Linked DNA regions of Homo sapiens: regions 1 and 2 are each reported to be linked to region 3. Evidence: microRNA targets listed by miRTarBase, many of them from high-throughput screens and not tested one by one. Region 3 holds a microRNA gene; each other region holds the end of a gene's coding sequence.
The links. Region 3 holds the annotated microRNA hsa-miR-4706 (AGCGGGGAGGAAGUGGGCGCUGCUU, at 2,273-2,297, opposite strand). A microRNA usually pairs through its seed, bases 2 to 8, with sites in the 3' UTR of a target mRNA and lowers its output. Matches are read on the target gene's strand: a 7mer-m8 pairs with bases 2 to 8, a 7mer-A1 pairs with bases 2 to 7 and ends in A, and an 8mer does both.

Region 1 (7,018 bases), not on the chromosome of region 3:
AGCCACCAAACAGGCTCAGGGTGGCATGATGGCTCGGCAAGGTCTCAGAGCCAGGCAGGTGTGGAGCGAGAGGTGGAAGCCAGGCCTGCTAGCTTCCAGGGGCCCCTGCCACACTGGGAAGAGAGGGGGAAGCTGGCACAGCCTGGAAGGGACACCCACACCCGGGGAAGGAGTTTCGTGGGCATCCCGGCGTCTCCCACGCCTCTCCTAGCTCAGCGTCCCCCGGGGAAGCTCAGGCCCCAGATTTTGTTAGGGAGAAGTAAGCAAAGGGTGTTGGCTGTGCGCCCGCCTGTGGGACAGAACTGCAAAGTCAGCCACAAGCAAATGGGCCTTTTCAGGAGGCAGGAGGCACGGCAGCCACCTCCTCTGAGAAGCCGCCATGTCCTCCTCCCTCCCCGGGGCGTGGGGCTGTCCCCTCAAGCCTGGGTGGCCTTTGACGTGTGACCCTCCTCTCTGCACAGGCTCGGTCTGGGGTTCTTGCAGCTGGCACCAGCCCTCCCGGCCCCGGCCGCCCACCCGCCGCGGGGAAGATGCCGGAACAGAGTAACGATTACCGCGTGGTGGTGTTCGGGGCGGGCGGCGTGGGCAAGAGCTCGCTGGTGCTGCGCTTCGTGAAGGGCACGTTCCGCGACACCTACATCCCCACCATCGAGGACACCTACCGGCAGGTGATCAGCTGCGACAAGAGCGTGTGCACGCTGCAGATCACAGACACCACCGGCAGCCACCAGTTCCCGGCCATGCAGCGCCTGTCCATCTCCAAGGGCCACGCCTTCATCCTGGTGTTCTCCGTCACCAGCAAGCAGTCGCTGGAGGAGCTGGGGCCCATCTACAAGCTCATCGTGCAGATCAAGGGCAGCGTGGAGGACATCCCCGTGATGCTCGTGGGCAACAAGTGCGATGAGACGCAGCGGGAGGTGGACACGCGCGAGGCGCAGGCGGTGGCCCAGGAGTGGAAGTGCGCTTTCATGGAGACCTCGGCCAAGATGAACTACAACGTCAAGGAGCTCTTCCAGGAGCTGCTGACGCTGGAGACGCGCCGGAACATGAGCCTCAACATCGACGGCAAGCGCTCCGGGAAGCAGAAGAGGACAGACCGCGTCAAGGGCAAATGCACCCTCATGTGAGCCCGGAACGCCCGCCTGCCCGCCGCCCACCCCCACTGACCCCCGCTGCCTCCCCCAACACCGACACCCTCCTCGGCCTCCTCCTCTTCTCTCATCCTTCCTCCGACACCTCGGCTGGGGAAACCGAGGCCACCGCCCCCCCCTCCGCTGCCCCTGCCCACCCCGAGGCAGGGCTGGGGCTTTTCTTCCTCCCCTGCTCTCTCTCCACCCTCCTGTTCTGTCTGTACCCTCCAAAACCAAGAGCCGGAGGTGGCCCCCTTGTCCTGCAGATGGGAAAACAGGATGGGGAGCTGGCAAGAGGAGCTGCTTGTTCCCACCAGGACCAGAGGAGGCTGCGTTTCCCCGTTTCCATCTCTTTCCCTGGGGTGTCCCCAGCCAGACCTGCGCGTCCTGTCCCTCACATTTGATCACTGTGACCTTCTGGGGGAGGGGGGAGTTGAAAATGCACATCGGCCTCAGATATTTTTTTCTTTTTTCTCCTATTTGGTGTTAACATACACCCAAGCCCACCCGGCCCGTCGTGACCTCTGATCTGTGCCCACTCCTCCGGTTCCAGACGCACCTCTCTCCTCTGTCTTCACAGTGGGGTGTGGGGCCCGTGGGATGGGCCTCAGGCCACCAGGCAATAACCACAGGGCCTGCAGCAGTGCCCCTGCCAGCCCCGAATCCCACCCCCGGGACCAGCCACATCCACAGCACAACTGCCCCGCTGGAGAGGCACCATGGGCGTGGAGGGGCTTCCCGGACACCGCCCACCCGGGACCCGCCTCTTCCACCAAGACAGAGACGTTAGCAACGCATGGCGGGTGGGGACCTGGGGTGCTCAGGAGGGGGTACCCGGGGCCCCGGCCAGAGATACATCAATTACACCCCCGTGGGGGGACAGCCGATGGGAGCCAGCACCAGCAGGATCCGAGGGCGCCCCGGACAGAGGTCTGCCCCACCCACTTCCTCCCCACCACCTGTGCCCCAGAGAGCAGGGCCTGCCCGGGAAGGTGGCGTCCTGGAGTCGAGTGTACCTGCAGCCATGAGGTTCTGGGTGTTTTTTGAGAGAGTCTGAGTGACACCACACTCGTGTGACCCCACAGGGTTGTGTCCAACATACACGGAAGTGGCTATGGAATGGTGTATTTGTGCAACCTGGGGTGCGCGGATGGGTGACTTGTATCTAAGTGCATCTGCGTGTATACCTGTGTGTGTCTGTCTGGGATGATATGTTTTTGTGGCAGTCTGTGTGTGTAATAGTGGTGTAGGGTATACAGAGAGGTGGGTAGTTGTAGATACCTGTGTGTGGTTGTCAGCAAGACTGGATATGTGTGAGGTGTCTGTGTGAATCTTTGTGCCTGTATGAGCATGACTATATTTTGGGGAGTGGGTGATATGGTTTATCTGAGAGCATTTATCTGTAAATATGTTTGTCCTGATTGAGGGACACGATCTGTGTTCCACTCTATAGCAACATGACTCTAGCAATGTGACTTTCGGTTCCAAATCTGTATCAGTCAGCTACTGCTGTGTAACAAATGACCACAAATGTAGCAACCAGAAACAACACATGCTTATTATCTCATAGATTCTGTGGGTCAAGAGCCTGGGTGCAGGTTGGCTGGGTCCTCTACTTGGGATCTCAGGAGGCTGCAATCAAAGCATTCGCCAGGCAGAGGTCTCATCTGAAGGCCTGATCGGGGAAGGATTTGCTTCTTAGAAGCTCATGTGGTTGTTGCAGCATTCAGTTCCTTGCTGTTGCAAGACTGAAGGCCTCAGTTCCTCGCTGGCTGTTGGCTGGAAGCTGCCCTTTGTTCTGTACCATGTGGGTCTCTCCACAGCGGGGCTCGGAGCATGGCAGCTAAGTTAGTGAGGGAAGGTGAGATGGAGGTTTTGGTCTTATTGGGTGTGAGGAAGCAACGTGTGTGTGTGCGCACGCCCTTTTGTGCAGTGAGAGAGAGAGAGAGATTGCACACATGTGTCTCTGTAGTCATGTGGCCAGGTGGGACTATGTAGGTAACAGATTGCTCGTGTCTGATTTGGTACAAGCATGTTTGTTTTCCTCTGTGTTCGTGTGAGTGTTTACTCAACAAATGTTTATTGGACACACTCAGAGAGAGGGAGTGTGCACACGTGCGTGTGTGTTGCTATCCAGCACGTGGACCGGGCTCCCAGAAGAGCTGGCATTGTGTCTGAGCAGAGCTGGGTCCCCCCAAAACTTGGGCTGGCCCAGGGCCCACCAGCAGCTGATGTTGCCTCCTCTCCTGTCCTGGCAGTAGCTTCTGGGTTCTGAAGGTGCCGGAGAGAGTGAGGCTGGGCAGGGGTCTGCGGCCCTTTCTCAGGGACACACCCTGATAGCACAATCTCCTTGGGGCCCTGCCCACCTCCAGGCCTCTCCCACCTCAGGCCCTGCCCGACCCTGGGGAGAGAGGGCATCTGCAATAGGAGGGGACCCGAGCCTGTCCTGGCTGCTGGCCCATCCTGCCTGGGCATCCCTGGTGCTGGGGACTGTGCCAGGCCATGCTTGCTGTGACTCCGCCCCTGCCCCCTCTCCCCCCGCATGTGGGTGCCCCCACTCCCCCATCGTGGGGTCTGTGTAGCCTTCGCTCTAGACATAGTCTTCCTGCAATAAAAAAGTGGATCCTGCATTCCCCACCAGCATGGCGCCCTGTCTCTGTGGTGGGCGTGGGGTGTCAGCTCACCGCCTGTAAAGGATCAAGAAGGGTGGGGAGGTGCAGGATGGGGTGAAGGGTGAAGGAGGTGATGGGTGTAGGAAGTGAGGGATGGGATGAAGGGTGGAGGAGGTGATGGGTGTAGGAAGTGAGGGATGGGATGAAGGGTGGAGGAGGTGATGGGTGTAGGAAGTGAGGGATGGGATGAAGGGTGGAGGAGGTGGTGGGTGGAGGAAGTGAGGGATGGGGTGAAGGGTTGAGAAGGTGGTGGGTGTAGGAAGTGAGGGATGGGATGAAGGGTGGAGGAGGTGACGGGTGTAGGAAGTGAGGGATGGGGTGAAGGGTGGAGGAGGTGGTGGGTGTAGGAAGTGAGGGATGGGATGAAGGGTGGAGGAAGTGGTGGGTGTAGGAAGTGAGGGATGGTGTGAAGGGTGGAGGAGGTGATGGGTGTAGGAAGTGAGGGATGGGGTGAAGGGTGGAGGAGGTGGTGGGTGGAGGAAGTGAGGGATGGGATGAAGGGTGGAGGAGGTGATGGGTGTAGGAAGTGAGGGATGGGATGAAGGGTGGAGGAGGTGGTGGGTGTAGGAAGTGAGGAATGGGATGAAGGGTGGAGGAGGTGGTGGGTGTAGGAAGTGAGGAATGGGATGAAGGGTGGAGGAGGTGACGGGTGTAGGAAGTGAGGGATGGGATGAAGGGTGGAGGAGGTGGTGGGTGTAGGAAGTGAGGGATGGGATGAAGGGTGGAGGAGGTGACGGGTGTAGGAAGTGAGGGATGGGATGAAGGGTGGAGGAGGTGGTGGGTGTAGGAAGTGAGGGATGGGATGAAGGGTGGAGGAGGTGACGGGTGTAGGAAGTGAGGGATGGGATGAAGGGTGGAGGAGGTGGTGGGTGTAGGAAGTGAGGAATGGGATGAAGGGTGGAGGAGGTGACGGGTGTAGGAAGTGAGGGATGGGATGAAGGGTGGAGGAGGTGGTGCGTGGAGGAAGTGAGGGATGGGATGAAGGGTGGAGGAGGTGATGGGTGTAGACAGTGATGGATGGGATGAAGGGTGGAGGAGGTGATGGGTGTAGGAAGTGAGAGATGGCATTAAGGGTGGAGGAGGTGGTGGGTGTAGGAAGTGAGGGATGGGATGAAGGGTGGAGGAGGTGATCGGTGTAGACAGTGACGGATGGGATGAAGGGTGGAGGAGGTGATGGGTGTAGGAAGTGAGGGATGGGATGAAGGGTGGAGGAGGTGGTGGGTGTAGGAAGTGAGGAATGGGATGAAGGGTGGAGGAGGTGGTGGGTGTAGGAAGTGAGGTATGGGGTGAAGGGTGGAGGAGGTGATGGGTGTAGGAAGTGAGGTATGGGGTGAAGGGTGGAGGAGGCGATGGGTGTAGGAAGTGAGGGATGGGATGAAGGATGGAGGAGGTGATGGGTGGAGGAAGTGAGGGATGGGAGGAAGGGTGGAGGAGGTGGTGGGTGTAGAAAGTGAGGGATGGGGTGAAGAGTGGAGGAGGGGACCTGTGTAGGAAGCGAAGGATGGGATGGTGGTGGGGAGGTGGAGGGAGTGGGTTGAGGACATGCAGCAGGGGAGGCAAGGCAGGACCCGTCTGGGACTCTGCTTGGAGATGTCTTTATGTGGCTTTTTTCTAGGGTGTTGGTTTCCAGATTCACTCTGTGCACATTAGCTGGGGACATCCTCCCAGCTGGACTTTCTGTGAACGTGGACAATTTCCTTGCAGGCCCAGTGGCGTTGGGGCAGAGGAGACTGTATTAGTCCATTCTTGGAATGCTATAAAGAAATACCCAGGCCGGGCACGGTGGCTCATGCCTGTAGTCCCAGCACTTTGGGAGGCCGAGAAGGGCATATTACCTGAGACCAGAAGTTTGAGACCAGCCTGGCTCACATGGCAAAACCCTGTCTCTACTAAAAATACAAAAAATTAGCTGGGCGTGGTGGCGGGAGTCTGTAATCCCAACTACTAGGGAGGCTGAGGCAGGAGGATCACTTGAACCCGGGAGGCGGAGCTTGCAGTGAGCTGAGATCGTGCCACTACACTCCAGCCTGGGTGACGAGAATGAAACTCTGTCCAACCCCCCGCCGCCCCACAAAAAGAAAAGAAATACCTGATACAGGTAAATGATAGAGAAAAGAGGTTTAATTGGCTCATAGTTCCACAGCCTGTGCAGGAAGCATGGCAGCAGCTGCTTCTGGGAGGCCTCAGGAAACTTACGGTCATGGGGGAAGGCAGAGGGGAGCAGGCAGGTCACTCGGCCGGAGCAGGAGCACAGGGGAGGAGGTGCCATACCGGATCTTGTGAGAACTCTATTATGAGACAGGACTGAGGGGTGGATCCATTCATGAGGATCCACCGTCATGATCCAGTCGCCTCCCATCAGGCACTACCTCCAACACGGGACTACAATTCAACATGAGATTTGGGTGGGGACAGAGAGCCAAACCATGTCAGGGGACCTTCCCTGCTTGTCCCATCTGCCAGCCCAGCCCCCACCCCTCACCCCTAACCCAGAGCAGGCTGGGGCAGGGATCTGACCTGAAGAGGTAAGGCGTTGTTCAGGACCAGACTGGAAGGAAGGAAGAGCTGAGACATCATTCATTCACGTATTCATTGGTTCATTCATTCATTCATTCATCCAGTATGTAAGAGGCACCACTCTATGCCTGGTCCTGCCCTGATGCTGGGGACACAGCAGTGACAGACACCAGCCCCAGAGCCCCCTGCCTGCTCAGAGAGCATAACCCACTGGGGACGATGATTCCCTATGAAGAAGTGGATCAAATCATCGCAGACACATGCTCCCTACGCAGAAGATAAACCTGCATCACAAAAGTGACGTGGCTGGGAGTCCCAGGCCTTCTGAGGTCTGACTCAGAAGCTGACGTGTTTGCTGATGTGGGAAGCGGGGGAGAGGCCAGCTCCAAGGGGACCTGGGACGGAGCACTGGACAGGGGGACCAGCAAAGGTGTCAAAGCAGGAACAGGTGAGGCCTGGCTGGGAGGAGTGGAGGGAGGAGAGGGAAGGTGGCCAGTGAAGTTGAAGGTCGCCAGCAGGGGTCAAACAGTGCCTGGTGGGCTGTGGGAAGAGTTTGGACTTTCACGAGAAGGATGCCAGGGGGTTACGGGAACATTTCAGCATTTCCCTCAAGAGACCTCGAGGGCCCCGCTGTACCGTGTACTTACCGCAGCTGGCTGAGGAGGTCGGACAGGCACTAAGAGCCCTATTTTACAAAGG
Region 2 (7,018 bases), not on the chromosome of region 3:
CCTCCACCCCAGCCCCTTCTCCAGTCCTCCTCGCGGGCGAGAGGGGACGCGGCCGCCAGCCGGTAGGGTGATTAACTCACCGTCTGTCTTTGCAAAAGTGTTCCAGGTGGATCAGGAGCGCCAGCCCACCCCGCCCGCAGCCTGGCCGCTCGCTGAGGCGCGGAGAGCGCGGAACGAGCGCGCGCATCACGTGGCGGCGCGGACGTTTGTGCCGCGCGCCCGCCAGACCGCCCAGGAGGCGGCGGCTATTGTTCCCCGCAGGGGCCCGGGGCGCCCTGAAACGGGGTCCACGTCAGCCCGCTCCCGAGCGTGTCCTCAGGTCTAAGGACGGGTGGGGCTTCCTTTGTGTGTTCTCTGGAAGGGGCTGGGATGGCGTCGTTGCTGCCCCAAGGGGTAACCGAGGGGGATTGAGGGAAGATGGTACCAGCTCCCTAGAGCTCAGCTCACCAGACCTACTCTTCCGCTCGACCCTTGCAGAGGAGGTGGGGACGGATATGGTATTTGTAGGGCAGCGCTGTGAACAATGGAGCCATCAAAAAGGCCTTCTCCCAGCCTCCTCACCAACCACGGACATTCCTGGCCCAACAAGACCTCCTGGCCAGGTTTTGAGCCCTGCTTCCCAGGTAAAAACACTGCCTGTACCAGAGCTCTCCATGAATTTTGGTTTAAATTAGGATTTAAATTCTTCTGGCCCTTACTAATGTTAAAACCCAGCTTTTATGATTTCTCCAGGTAGTATTCTTTCCTTAAAATAATCCAGACTAGCTATAGGAACCAATCAGGACATTTTGCCCAAGATCTAGGACAGAAAGACTCATGCAGTAACTCCTGCCTTACAGATCTGGGGACCCTTCACCTGCCTCTACTACTGCAAATGATTGGATATTCGTCTGACTTGGCTCTTCCCTAATGTGTGGAACTAATTTTGTTCACTCTGTTTCATGCTGGACCTGGCCTGAAAATGGGCCCTTATATTGTCTTTGCACTTTCCAACTTGCCAAGGTAGGTGTGAAACCTGAGGGAAGTTTTTAGGAATAGGCTTTAGGCCAGGTACTTAAATCCATTTGTTCCCAACCTTGGACTCCAAAGATAAGGGCATTTGTAGCTGGAGTAGAAAAGAAGGGAACAATGAGAACTAAGATTTCATCCTCTGTGATGATTCTTATCATTCACCGTCCTTCCTCTCCAGCATCACCAGTGCAGAAAGTGCAGAGGACTTATGTACCCAATCTTTTTTTTTTTTTTTTTTTTTTTTTGAGATAGAGTTTCACTCTTGATGCCCAGGCTGGAGTGCAATGGTGTGATCTCAGCTCACTGCAACCTTGCCTCCCAGGTACAAACGATTCTCCTGTCTCAGCCTCCCAATATACCCAATCTTTCTCCTTTCTATCCAGGCCTTCTGCAAGAGAGATCTAAGAACCAGCCCTCAAAGATGGTAAGGGCTTGGCTAGTGACAGCCCAGTCTCAGCTCCCTGTGCCCAAAGTGTCGGAACAGGGCCACTCAACCCAAGCCCTACATATATACTCTGGGAAGTTGCAGTGCCTCGAAGTGATCAGGCCATAGTCCTGTGAAGACTGGGGTCATCCATGTCCCTTCCTGCCTACTCACAAACTTCTGTTCTTCCTATTCTTTTCTTTCAGTTTCTGAAAGAAGGACCAAAGTAATGCCAAGAACTCCCAGATGAAGAGGACCTTCCTTAGACCTATAACAGATTCACTACTTGACTTCAGAGGGAAGTTTCAGCTAATTCTCAGGAAAAGGTCAAAACAGGCCTGTGACTGTCCCTTGAATACTGAAGGTATAAACAAGCTTCTGGCTCCTCCAGGTCAAGCAGAGGAACACTTTTATTAGAATGAAGGGTTACTTCTTTGTTATTCAAACACACACCCACACACATCCTCTGTAGTCTCCCTAATGAAAAACCTCAACAGATGGAGAGCCTGAGCTCCCAAGTCCGCAGGCTGAGAAGATGCACTTCACTCAAGGGCCAGTGGGCTGGTACAGACTAGGGAAGAGAAAAGGGACAAAGGCTGCTAGTATAGGTAATCACTATCTTTTAATACTCCTAACACATAGAAATTCGAAAAATCTTGTTCAGCAATGTTAGCAGCCTGTGAGCCTCGGAAACTAATTTGGCTGATGTGTCTCTGATAGGGAGCTTGGGGCTGCACCAAGGGGAAACATTCTCCTCCTGTATTCTCTCCTCTCTCTCGTTTGAAAGCCTGTACAAAGAAATGGTACAAATGGATGGTTAACTTAATGATTCCATCAGAGGCAGATTTTTCTCTGTCAGGTCCCTGGATAAGGTGGAGGTCTGAAAGCCAGGAGACAGAATATGTACTTAATCGCCCTTTCTGACCTGCTTACCAGTGACCAGGACTACTCTCCAGGCCTTTCTTCTGCCACTTCCCCATTCTTCCTGGCTAGTTCAGTTGGGTCTCAGCACTTCAACTCCTGGCTGGATCCTGAGTTTTTCTTGGTTGCAGGGAAAGCTCTCACTGTCTGCATCTCCTTCCCCACCCCCACCTCCCGTTTTGCAGCTGGCCATTCTGGCTGCCTCACAGCTATCCTGCCTTAATTCATATTTGATTGCCTGGACAGAACCACCTAGAATGTCCAGACGACTGCCACCCCTCAGCCATGGGCCTGAGATCCTGCCCTGACCCCTTTCTTCAGACCCCAGGAGGACCCACAATCTCCCTGATCCCCACCTTCCCCAAAGTAGTCTCTAGGAAAAAAGCAGAGCTGGCTAAGGCCTGAGACAGAGCCATTTCTTCCCCTTGGGCAAACGAGGTAGACCCTCCCAGAGACCAATGCCGGAGAGGCCCGGATCCGAGCTCCCTTTATATGGCCTCCCCCATCACGGATCCCGTGGGAAAACCTGACACACAATGGCGCGGCTGCTCCGGGCACCCTCAACCCAGCGCCCTGCGGCAAGGCCTGGAGCAGCCTGGTGGTCTTGGTGCGCTCCCTTTGCCCTCCCCGCAACCCTCTGCGAGCACTCGTCCCAGGAGAGAGACCCTGGCTAGGGTGGAGGTTGCCTCCCGCAAAGGGCGCTGTTGCTGGGGCCTCCCCTCCCCCATTCTCTTGTTTTTCTGCTTCTGAGACTCGGGAGGGAGGCGGCAGGCGCCTCCGCAGCCGATAGAGCAGCTATTGTGACCTTCCCTTGCAGAGCGGGAACCCAGCCGAGTGTGTACCGCCGGCGGTGGCGGGGGAGGAGGCGACTGTGTGTGCAAACCTCAGTCGGAGAGGGGGTGGCGCTGGGAAATAAAGGTTTGCAACCTCAGGCAGTTGGGCCCTTCAGAGGGCGTTTGGTTGTGTTTAGACTCGGTTGCTTTCTAACACTAATTGCAGGCTCAAAAGGAGCGGAATTTATTGCGAAGGCCAAGGCGGCTTGTTTATAATTTATGAAGTTTTAAATGGCTGTGCCGCGGGCCCCAACTTTCTCCTGGGCTGGCAGCCGCGCGGAAACGCGCCCTCCCCCGGCTCGCCGCCCACCCCCACCCACGCCCCTCAGATGAGTCTCACGCCAATGGCAGGAACAGATCCGAGCTATTAGAAGTCTCGGGAACCTCCAGAGATGACAGAAGGTGGCAGATTTGGTCCAAGCCCTCACCCCACTCGAGAGGAGGGCGTCGGGGAAAGCTGTGGCTGCCTGGAGAGGGAGCCCCTGATCCCACACTTCCTTGGAGCCTGAGTGTGAGAGGAAGCTAATGTCAGCCGGGCTAGACACCGTTTAAAGTCTAATCCATGAAACCCTAAGCCGCAAATGACACTTGGGGCTTTGCAGACACCCGCAGACTCAGCAGATACTCCTGCGGTAACACACTGTGCTGGAAAACGCCTGGAGCCATGACACATTACGTATTTTTATTATTATTTATGGTAGGAAGAGGAGATGAGGGAAAATCGGGCTGAATCTAAGCAGCCTGACAATTCAGCTAGTTAATATTTAGCCAGTTAAGAAAGGTGGTTGTAATCCCTGCAAGGCAGTGAGCTCTCCTTTGATTTCTCTAATAGCTTAAAAAATAATTTCTTACAAGACAATTAGAAATTCTGCCTATGGATGCAAATTTCATAGAAAACAATGTTAAGCCTTGAAAGTGGGTAAAATGTGCCTTCGATTGAAGTCATTTATTCTGTTGATACACTTCTACAACATATATATTTTAAACCTGCTCAGATAAAGTGAAATTTAGCAAAAGGATATCCCCTCCCACCCCCAAATCTAACATGCCATTTTAAAAACAGCACAAAGGAACAAGGAAACTAAATATTATTTTGAGCCATCATTACTTAGTGAAATACAAACATCCAAATAGAAACGATTGTTGTTCCACCAGAAGATTAGAAGTTAAATTATTTCCACACAATAGGAATTTCACTTCGTGTCATCGGGGATGTAGTAGGAGTTGCATTATTTGTCAAACCAAATAGAGATGCGTGGGCTGACTTTGCTGAAATACAAAAGAATTGAACCTTATCTGAAGGCGTTTTCTAAGTGGCCCCTCCCATAGAAGCCGGGAAGTTGTCCACCCCTAGCAGAAGCCACATTAATATTTACAAAATGGTTATAAATCCTTGAAGACATTTTTGCCCATTTTGTATAAGAAACAGGAGTAAACAAGGTGTTTATACTTGTTATGTTTCATTAATGAAATATTATTACTTTACATCTTGGGGAATGTTTGTTTTCTTTAGAAATGAACTAATGATCACTACAAAGGAAGAATTCATGACAGCATTTCCTAGAGAAAAAGCTTAGGTACGCGTCTCCAAATGATGGTTTCTTTTTCTACACCTTAGCTTTTTCATAGCTCAATTCTTCTTACAACTTCTCTTGTGTTTTTTCTTTGATTGTCAGTTTTCTTTCAAAGTTTATTTTTTGTTACTTAATGCAGAAAAGTGAGCTCTGGTCTCCCCAGTGTAAAAGTCGATTGTGTCTAGAAAGAAGGCAGTAAAAACAGCAAAGCAGGCGCTGCTTTCAAAAAGCCCTGCCCAAATCATCCCGCCCAGAACCTTCTTAGGTTTGCATCCTCATTTCCCCCTCCCCTAATTTCAATAGCTGGAAAGTAATCAAGTATCCCGAGAACCAATTTATGCACTAGACTCCAAATAAATAAAATATTTTTTTCAAAGTGTCAGTCTGTTTCGGGGCCTTCCATGGGGATTGTGCGAGATAAAGGCATAGTGATCTGCTTGCAAGTGTGCATGATTAACACAGATACAGTTCCGACTGGGAAATTTTTTTATTCTAAATATTTGTTCCAATAGTACCAGACAATTTGAAATCAATAAACTGTGGTGAGGACTGTGGTTTTTGAGAAATGACCAAAGTGTGTTGTGCCACGCCACCGGGCTTCCTGACTCTACCCATGAAGGACAATTTGCGGTCTTAATCCTTTATGTCAACTACAAACACCAGCCACGGTTACGACTGTTCAAAACTACTCTCTCAACTAGTTCAGACCAGGGGGACTAAGGAGGTGAAATGTGGCCCCCACGGCCTGGAAGCGAATTCCTAAGCTCGGCTGGATAAATCTACAAATATACACATAAATACATTCAGACAAGGATAAATAATCAGGGAACGAAATGACTCGCTTCAAATAATAAATACAGATAGTTTAGTCCGATGCAATCCTTACGGCACAGGAAGGAGAATATAAATTAAGGTCTCTGAAACTAAGCTAGACGCGGGCCAGGCCCAAGACTCTCCAAGCTCTGGTCCCTCTGCAGGGCGCGCCGCTGATGGGTCTCAGACTTACCTTTGGGACACCATTACCAGATTGGAGTCCCTTGGTCCGCAGTATGTGGCACTGTCAAATTTACAGGGAAGGATCCTTGCGGCTGATTTATGGCGAGTCACCCAAAGGACGCCCATGGAGGGGAGGCCCGGTCGCCTGCGCCTCCGCCGCTGGAGGCCTGAGACCCGGGAGGCGGCGGCAGGGCAAGAGCGGGGAAGGGGGTTCCCGAACTGCCCCGCGGGCCCCACCCTCTACCCCACCACTACAGCAAGAGAGGTAATTTTGCCGCGAGTTCGGGCTGGCGGCGGCCGCTACAGATGCGTCAGTTTGGGAGCCTCCGGCAGTCGTCCCTGAGACGAGTGGTGGGCCGAGAGATCTGTGTAGGTGGGATGAGGGTCGCAAGGTCCATGGTGGTGGTTGCCTGGAATCTGCGCGGCGCAACTGTAGTCCACGCTGGCCGACGACGGGTGCGAGAGGTGGCCCAGGTTGAAGACAGGCCCGGACGCGGGCGCCATGGACTCGACGAAGTTGCCGCCCACGTACACCGGGCTGCCCTGCAAGTTGGCGCTGGCGAAGCCGCCGCCGTTGCTCGCCATGGGATGGGGCTCGAACTCCGGCGCTGCGTAGCGCTTCTGTTGTGGCAGGCAGCTGCTGAGTGGCGCCGTGTAGGCGGCCAGGCCGTACATATTGGGCTGTGATTTGGCGAAAGCAGGCGGCGAGGGCGCGTCGTAGGCCAGGCCGGGCACTGGCGGCAGCTGGCCGGAGTAGGCCACGTGGCCAGCGGCGCCGCCGAGCGGTGGGCTGCGCTCAGGGGACTGGCTAGCCGGCGAGTGCAGGATGCCCTTGGCCTTCTGGTCCTTCTTGTACTTCATGCGCCGGTTCTGGAACCAGATCTTGATCTGGCGTTCCGTGAGATTCAGCAGGTTGGCCATCTCCACGCGGCGCGGCCGGCACAAGTAGCGGTTGAAGTGGAATTCCTTTTCCAATTCCACCAGCTGCGCGCTCGTGTATGCCGTGCGTACCCGCTTGGATGCTGGGCCTGGCGGGCTCTTGTCCTCGCAGCTCTCTCCTGGGCAGGGAGGGAGAGAGGGAGGGCGCTGAGCGAGTGGGTGGGGACCCTCAGGACTGGAGAGGGGTGCTTCCCTGGTTCTCTTTTCCTCCTCCCTCCCCCCACCTCCAATCCTGGCTGGGGAGGGGAAGGGCCGTTTGAGAGGTATGATTCCAAGGGGGAATTCACCTACCTACCAACCCCCTACTAGGCCTACCTATC
Region 3 (7,018 bases):
CACTTGTTATAAATATTTTTCGCACCTTTTTGCTTGTTTTGTTTGTAGAATTTCCCTGTTTCTGTAAAATAACTTTTGTTGTCTTTTTTTATGCAAGAAATACCTATTAACTATAGAAAGATTAGAAAATACAAACAGAAGCAAACATCACCTGTAACTTCACATCCTAGATACTTTCTATGAATTTTTTGTAGTCAACTCTTCACTAAAAATGGGATTCCACACATATTGCTTTGATATGATCACAATATATTGTGACTATCTTTCTACACTGCATCCCCTTTTGACTCCCAAAGTCAGTATTTTGCCCTCCTTTCAACACACTTCCCTTCTTTACAGACTCCTGTCTGTTCCAAGTTCAAGAGATGCCCTGTGTCTGAGAAGACAACACAGGCCTTCTCCCAGCCAATGAAAAAAGCTGGAAGCACCAAGATTCATAGGCACCCTTTTCCATAGACAAAGCTTTGAATGCCACTAAGCCCCCTAGAACATGTGCTACAAGAAACAATTAACCAGCAGCCCCCCTGGAAGACTTTGACAGGTGGTGCTCCTGTTATAGCTCATTCCACATTTCCCTGGGATTGCAGAATTACTGAGTCTTATCCATGCCAGGGACAGGTTTGTAAAAGACTGACCATTTTACCAGGGGCTTGACCTCACCAGTTCCAAATAAAGAGATCACCATGACCCCAAGTTTTTTTCTATCTTAGAAATGTTGGGCCAGGCACGGTGGCTCACGCCTGTAATCCCAGCACTTTGGGAGGCCAAGGCGGACAGATCACCTGAGGTCAGGAGTTCGAGACCAGCCTGACCAACATGGAGAAACCCTGTCTCTACTAAAAATACAAAATTGGCTGGGCGTGGTGGTGCATGCCTATAATCCCAGCTATTTAGGAGGCTAAGGCAGGAGAATTACTTGAACCCAGGGGGCAGAGGTTGCAGTGATCCATTGCACTCCGGCCTGGGCAACAAGAGTGAAACTCCGTCTCAAAAAAAAATAATACTAAAATAAAAAATGTTTGACTTGGGGAATTCCTGACTTCCCTACTGGTGGTCAAGGCAGAGACTGTGCAGGCTCCAAAGTCAGTGCACTTGCTGACAGTGCACTTGCTGTGTTCCAAGGGTAAGTGCCTTATATGCCTTAATACTGACACCTAAAGCCCAGTGGGCCCAGGCCGGGAAAATGGGACAGAGGCTCTGCTTACTTTAATTCAGTGTCAGAAATGGTCACAACTCAACAACTCAAAGGAAATTAAGAAACTAAATAATGAGGCTCAGGGCCGGGTGCGGTGGCTCACGCCTATAATCCCAGCACTTTGGGAGGCCGAAGTGGGCGGATCACCTGAGGTAAGGAGTTCAAGAACAGCCTGTCCAACATGGTGAAACCCTGTCTCTACTAAAAATACAAAAATTAGCCAGGTGTGGTGGCACGCGCCTGTAGTCCCAGCTACTCAGGAGGCTGAGGCAGGAGAATTGCTTGAACCTGGGAGGTGGAGGCTGCAGTGAGCCAAGATCGTGCCACTGCACTCCAGCCTGGGAGACAGAGCACGACTCCATCTCGGGGGCGGCGGGGAGGGGGGAAGACGGGGGGTGGGGGGCTCAGAAACAGGAAAAAAAAGTATGGGGAGGGGCAGAAAAGAATCTCATCTTTTACATTTGAGCAGTTACATTATCCAACTAAGTCCGAAGAACAGCTTCTCTTTGGACCCAGGGATCTCATTCCAAAAACAGATCAGCAACCAGCAGGGCCCCATGACTTCCTCTCTCCCACAGGTCTACTCAGAGACACCTGCTCTCACATCAAGTACACCAGAAAGATGGTGCAGGAGTTAGCAGGCAGACTGAGGTTTCAAGAGATAGAGAGAGAATGTTCCCAGACTTTTTGCTCACTAACTACTTCGGTTTTGCGTTCCCATTTGAGACCCCACAGAAACGAACGTGGATTTCTCTACTCCAATGGTGCAGGTGGAACAAACTCCCATTTAGGCTTATTCAATGAATGTAAAATAAAACATTTCTAATAGTGACAACTCTGCAGCCAGTCAGACACGGCGAGTCTCTTCTCCATGGTGTAGGGGCAACCCACCCCTACAACCCACCCCTACACATGGGTTCTGGTTCTCTACCCCTTTACGCAGTTGCCTTTCCTGTTGCTGTTGCAACAGTGACTGTTGCAACACTGAGGGTTTTCAGCTCTGCCCTGCACCCAGAGGAGGTGGCAATCACCACAGAGCCCAGGACAGGAGTGGGCTGCTCCTTCCAGATAACGCAGAAGCAGCGCCCACTTCCTCCCCGCTCCCCGTAGCAATTTCAAGGAAGCTCATTCTGTCGCAGCCAATTTGAAGAAGCAAAGAATGACACTAAACCAATGAAACTAAATCTTACTCTGCATTCGCATGCCCCACGGCATGAGGTTCCACACTGGGCACTCAAAATCCAGGATAGACAGAGCTCATTTCAACCCCTCTAAAAAAGCACGCTGGGCTTCCAGACTTTGTGAGTAGTGGAGGGAAATCATCCAGCCCCAAGTGAACAGCTCCCCAGGCTCACCTTGGGCGTGCAGTGCGCGGTGGAGCAGGGGCAGGAGCCCCGCCTGCCAGAAGGAGTAGCAGCCATCCACCAGCTTGTTGCAGCGGCCCTGAAATCCTCCTTCAAATCGCATCTGCCGGCTTGTCACCCATTGCTGAGGAGACACAGATGGGAAAGGCAGTTGTAGGCTAAAAGAGACAAAATCCAGCCCGACAGAATCTCCAGGAGTCAATCTGTGGGATGGAGGGTTTCCCATCTTGTGGCTTCTTGGCACTCTAGTTTTGGTGCTCTGGTTTTCTTTCCTTCCCTCCCCACACTGCCATAGACACAGAGTGAAGCATTTAAGCCAACGCTGTAGAGGCATCCAGCACTGATCTCTGCTCAATGCCTGGCAGACAACTACCTTTTCCTGGGTTCCAAAGCAGTGCCAGTGCTGAGAAGATAAAGAGGCCAAGCTGGTTTGTAAGGAGACCTTCAAAGTCTCTTAATAAACATGGCTTAAGTTGGAAATTGAAGGCAAGACTACCAGTAGCTCATTTCTCATTACTTCCCTGCTCCGGGGAGTTTATTAAAAGCAGATAAATGGAATTTGGTACTACATTTCTTTTTTTTTTTTTTTTTTTTTTTTTTTTTTTTGAGACGGAGTCTCGCTCTGTCGCCCAGGCCGGACTGCGGACTGCAGTGGCGCAATCTCGGCTCACTGCAAGCTCCGCTTCCCGGGTTCACGCCATTCTCCTGCCTCAGCCTCCCGAGTAGCTGGGACCACAGGCGCCCGCCACCGCGCCCGGCTAATTTTTTGTATTTTTAGTAGAGACGGGGTTTCACCTTGTTAGCCAGGATGGTCTCGATCTCCTGACCTCATGATCCACCCGCCTCGGCCTCCCAAAGTGCTGGGATTACAGGCGTGAGCCACCGTGCCCGGCCTGGTACTACATTTCATCAGATGATCTCAAACTGCTCCTGACTTTTACTTGGCACCTGGGGAAATTTACCCAAGGTCTCTTAGCAAGTCACTAGCAGGCCTGAAAGCAGAAGCCATTCATTCTAATTACCAAATGACAACTCTGCCCAGTCTGTGGCTGATATAAGAAAATCTTTTACTTTGAAGCTGTAAAATAGGTCTTGGTCTTGATGTCACTCAGCGGTCACACACGATACCACCATTCCTTGCTTATCTACAAGTTTTCTAAACACACTCTACTACAAAGATCAAGATAGTCATGGGTTTGGTCCCTCAGAATGAGCAGAACCAACTGGCTGAGCAGATATGACATTTCCATTTCCCTCCCTAGACCACCTAGGCCGTTCCAGCCACGGACTTACAGAGCTGCCTCACTCAACTGAAAGGGTACAGGGGAGGGTACTTCCTGTTTCTAGAGTCTTACTAGGTAAAGGTCCTGAAAGGAGCCACTGGGACCCTTGATGGAAGTGGGGGCCAGCCCTCCCCTAAAAGCTGTTGTTTAGATTATTCCCTCTTCAAGGCAACACCTGCCCATAGAGAGTCACAGTCACAAATGCTTAAAAGAGACAGAAAACACTGTACTGCAGGTTCAGGTACTAATATATCCTCGGTTGATCTTAAATGAACCAGGGCTTCCAGCATGTAATGGAAGTGGGCTAAGCATTACTCAGGCAGAGAGAAAGCAGGCGCTGCAGTGGGAGTCGGTTCCTCATTTCTACTTACCGCAGGGCTTAAGTGTTTTTAAGCAGACTAATTTACTTTTTCCAGTGCCTAAGCCCATGGATTTGTTCTGTTTCCTTGGGCTATAGGAATTCATACTTCAGATATGGGTCCTACTTCTCCCAAAGCAAATGGAAGGGAGTAGTCTGGATTAGAGCAGGGGTCCCTAACCCCCAGACCATGCCAGGCTGCACAGCAGGACATGAGTGGTGGGTGAGCCAGTGAAGCTTAATCTGTATTTACAGCTGCTCCTCACTGCTCCCATTACTGCCTGAGCTCCACTTCCTGACAGATCAGCAGCAGCATTAGATTCTCATAGGAGCGCAAACCCTACTGTGAACCGTGTATGCCAGGCTTCTAGGTTGCACGCTCTACATGAGAGTCTAATGCCTGATGATCTGTCACTGTCTCCCATCACCCCCAAATGGGACTGTCTAGTTGAAAGAAAACAAGCTCAGGGCTCTCACTGATTCTACATTATGGTGAGTTGTATAATTATTTCATTATATATTACAGTGTAATAATAGAAATAAAGTACACAATAAATGTAATGTACTTGAATCATCCTGAAGCCATCACCCCCCGTCCCACCCCCAACCCCAGGTCCACGGAAAAATTATCTCCCACAAAACTGGTCCCTTGTGCCAAAAAGATTATTACTGTGGGTTAGAGGGACACTAACATTTATTAAGTACCTACTATGTGCCAGGCTGTTTATAAATGTTCTCTCCTTTAACCTTAAAAAAATAAGGATTGTTATCCCTACCTTATAAAAGAAAAAAATATCAAGCTAAAAGAGATTAGACAATTTGCCCAAGGACTCATGTCTCAAATGTAGTAGGGACAGGGTTCAAATCTAGAACACTGTCTTTATAACTGAGGCACTCCCTAATCACATTCCTTATCTCTGCCTGGGAGATGGGACTTTTTTGTTTCATGCCTTATTGGTGTTCAGATTTTAAAACATCTGAGAAACTCTTAAGTTCAGCATACAAAGTTGGCTGTTTCAGCATGAGCCTTCAAGCCTTCATGAATCTTTAAAAAGACTACACCGGGGGAGGCTTTCTGAAGGTGGAGGCAAGACACTGCTGGTTACATGTCTACAGGGTACAACAGAAACTCTCCAGGAAGCTCACGATGGGCCGCATAACGGGAGGCTGGCATCTGAACTCAGGGAGAGGAGGTGCATGTCAGTTGCAGCTGGTTTGCTTTGACGTCATGGTCAGGGGGTACATGCTCCCCAAATGACATGACGGGGAATGCCTTCTCCCTGGTGGCCGTGGAGGTGTGTGTGTTTGTGCACCCACTGATCATTTAACTACAATCTAGTGACTCCCTGAAGCTGACTGCTTTCTGAGTTTCTTCTGAATACTGGCCAGGAGCGTGGGGTCCAGACATAAATGTTGGGCTGCCTTCTCAATGCAATTAGCCAGCTCTGCCTAAACAACTCATTTAAATGTAGGTACTAAATGTTTACACAGTGCAGCAGGTAATAAAAGTTTGGTTTCGAAATGCTGCAAAGCTCTTCTTGTAACTTTTCCTCTTAGGAGGTTCTTTCTATAACACACGATAACCTCTAATTCTACGAAACTGAAGTATAAGGAAGGTACTCTGCTCACACCAGATGTCTGCAGCACACAGTCTATGTAGTCTACACACTATGTAAAAAGCTCTAAGCAGGAAGACAGAAAGGCAGAAGGGGGAGCCAAGACAGAGCAGCTGCTCACTCCTTCCTCTGTGTTGGAACAGAGCTAACTCTCTTAGCCCTTCCCATAGCCAAACTCTCCTGAAGCCTGCATGTCTGAGTACAATCACATCACCATGACCTGGGGCCTGAGAGGGGGATGGCTCAAAAGATACTTACTAATAAGCTCTTCAAGTTCAAGGAACGTTCCCTCTTGAGGATTACCAGCGCGGCCAGGCCACAGAAGGTATAGCCACCATGGGCTTCCATCCCTGGTACCCCGCCAATGCCACCTTCCCAGTTCTGACACCTAAGAAGAGATTGAGAAAAGCAGAATGAGTGGCCAGTGAGTGGACGTACACAAGACCAGGACCATCCTAGGTGGCAGAGAAAAAGTTCACTCAGATTAAGGTGTGAACCATCACAACTATGAATGAAAAGATGCCAACTAATTAACTTTTGGAAATGTCTTTTCAAAAAAAAAAAAAAAAAAAAGCTGGGCCTGGTGGCACCCATGTGTAATCCCAGCTGCTCAGGAGACTAAGGCAAGAAGATCACTTGAGGCGAGGAGTTCGAGGCTGCAGTGAGCTATGATCACACCATTGTGCTCCAGCCCGGGTGAAAGAGTGAGACTAGGTCTCCAAAAAATGTAAGTATAATAAAAACTGTAAAATGTTAAAAACCCAGACACTTAGAAACAGCCTACTTGTGTAAGAAACATAATAATTCAAATTATTACTCTTTGGGAAAAAGTTATAAAATCATACATATACATATATGTACATATATACACATATATATACATATATATATATACACACATATATATACATATATATACATATATATATAGTGATAACCATCAAGTTAAAATAAAATTAAAGAGTGATTGTTGATTCTAGTGATCTTTTATTTTTGAAACAGGGTCTTAACTCTGTTACCTAGGTTGACTGCAGATCATGGCTCACTGCAGCCTCAACCTCCTGGACTCAGGCAATCCTCCCACCTCAGCCTCCTGAGTAGCTGGGACTATGGGCGTGCCCCACCATACCCGGACCATTTTTTGTATTTTTTGTAGAGATGGGGCATTGCCATGTTACCCAGGCTGGTCTTAAATTTCTGGC

Region 1: the mRNA of DIRAS1 is a reported target of hsa-miR-4706. Seed matches in the 3' UTR shown: 7mer-A1 at 3,667-3,673.
Region 2: miRTarBase lists HOXD3 as a target of hsa-miR-4706. Seed matches in the 3' UTR shown: 7mer-m8 at 5,958-5,964.

The regions. Positions count from the first base shown.
Region 1 is chr19:2,711,319-2,718,336 of GRCh38, reverse strand. It overlaps DIRAS1 (DIRAS family GTPase 1), which reads left to right. Exons shown (of 2, transcript NM_145173.4): 2 at 462-3,770. The coding sequence starts at 531. The coding sequence ends at 1,127. Among named protein-coding and RNA genes, the nearest start is that of DIRAS1, 6.5 kb to the left of the region's middle.
Region 2 is chr2:176,171,316-176,178,333 of GRCh38, reverse strand. It overlaps HOXD3 (homeobox D3), which reads right to left. Exons shown (of 4, transcript NM_006898.5): 4 at 5,236-6,817. The coding sequence ends at 6,060. It overlaps HAGLR (HOXD antisense growth-associated long non-coding RNA), which reads left to right. Exons shown (of 3, transcript NR_033979.2): 2 at 840-1,002; 3 at 1,642-5,145. It overlaps HAGLROS (HAGLR opposite strand lncRNA), which reads right to left and starts at 168. Exons shown (of 2, transcript NR_110457.1): 1 at 81-168. RefSeq lists enhancers at 1-771, 6,103-6,713.
Region 3 is chr14:65,039,976-65,046,993 of GRCh38, reverse strand. MIR4706 (microRNA 4706) reads right to left here and starts at 2,306; the gene lies at 2,225-2,306. It overlaps CHURC1-FNTB (CHURC1-FNTB readthrough), which reads right to left. Exons shown (of 14, transcript NM_001202559.1): 10 at 6,075-6,204; 11 at 2,551-2,683. FNTB (farnesyltransferase, CAAX box, subunit beta) reads right to left here. Exons shown (of 12, transcript NM_002028.4): 8 at 6,075-6,204; 9 at 2,551-2,683. It also overlaps a transcript of MAX not described here.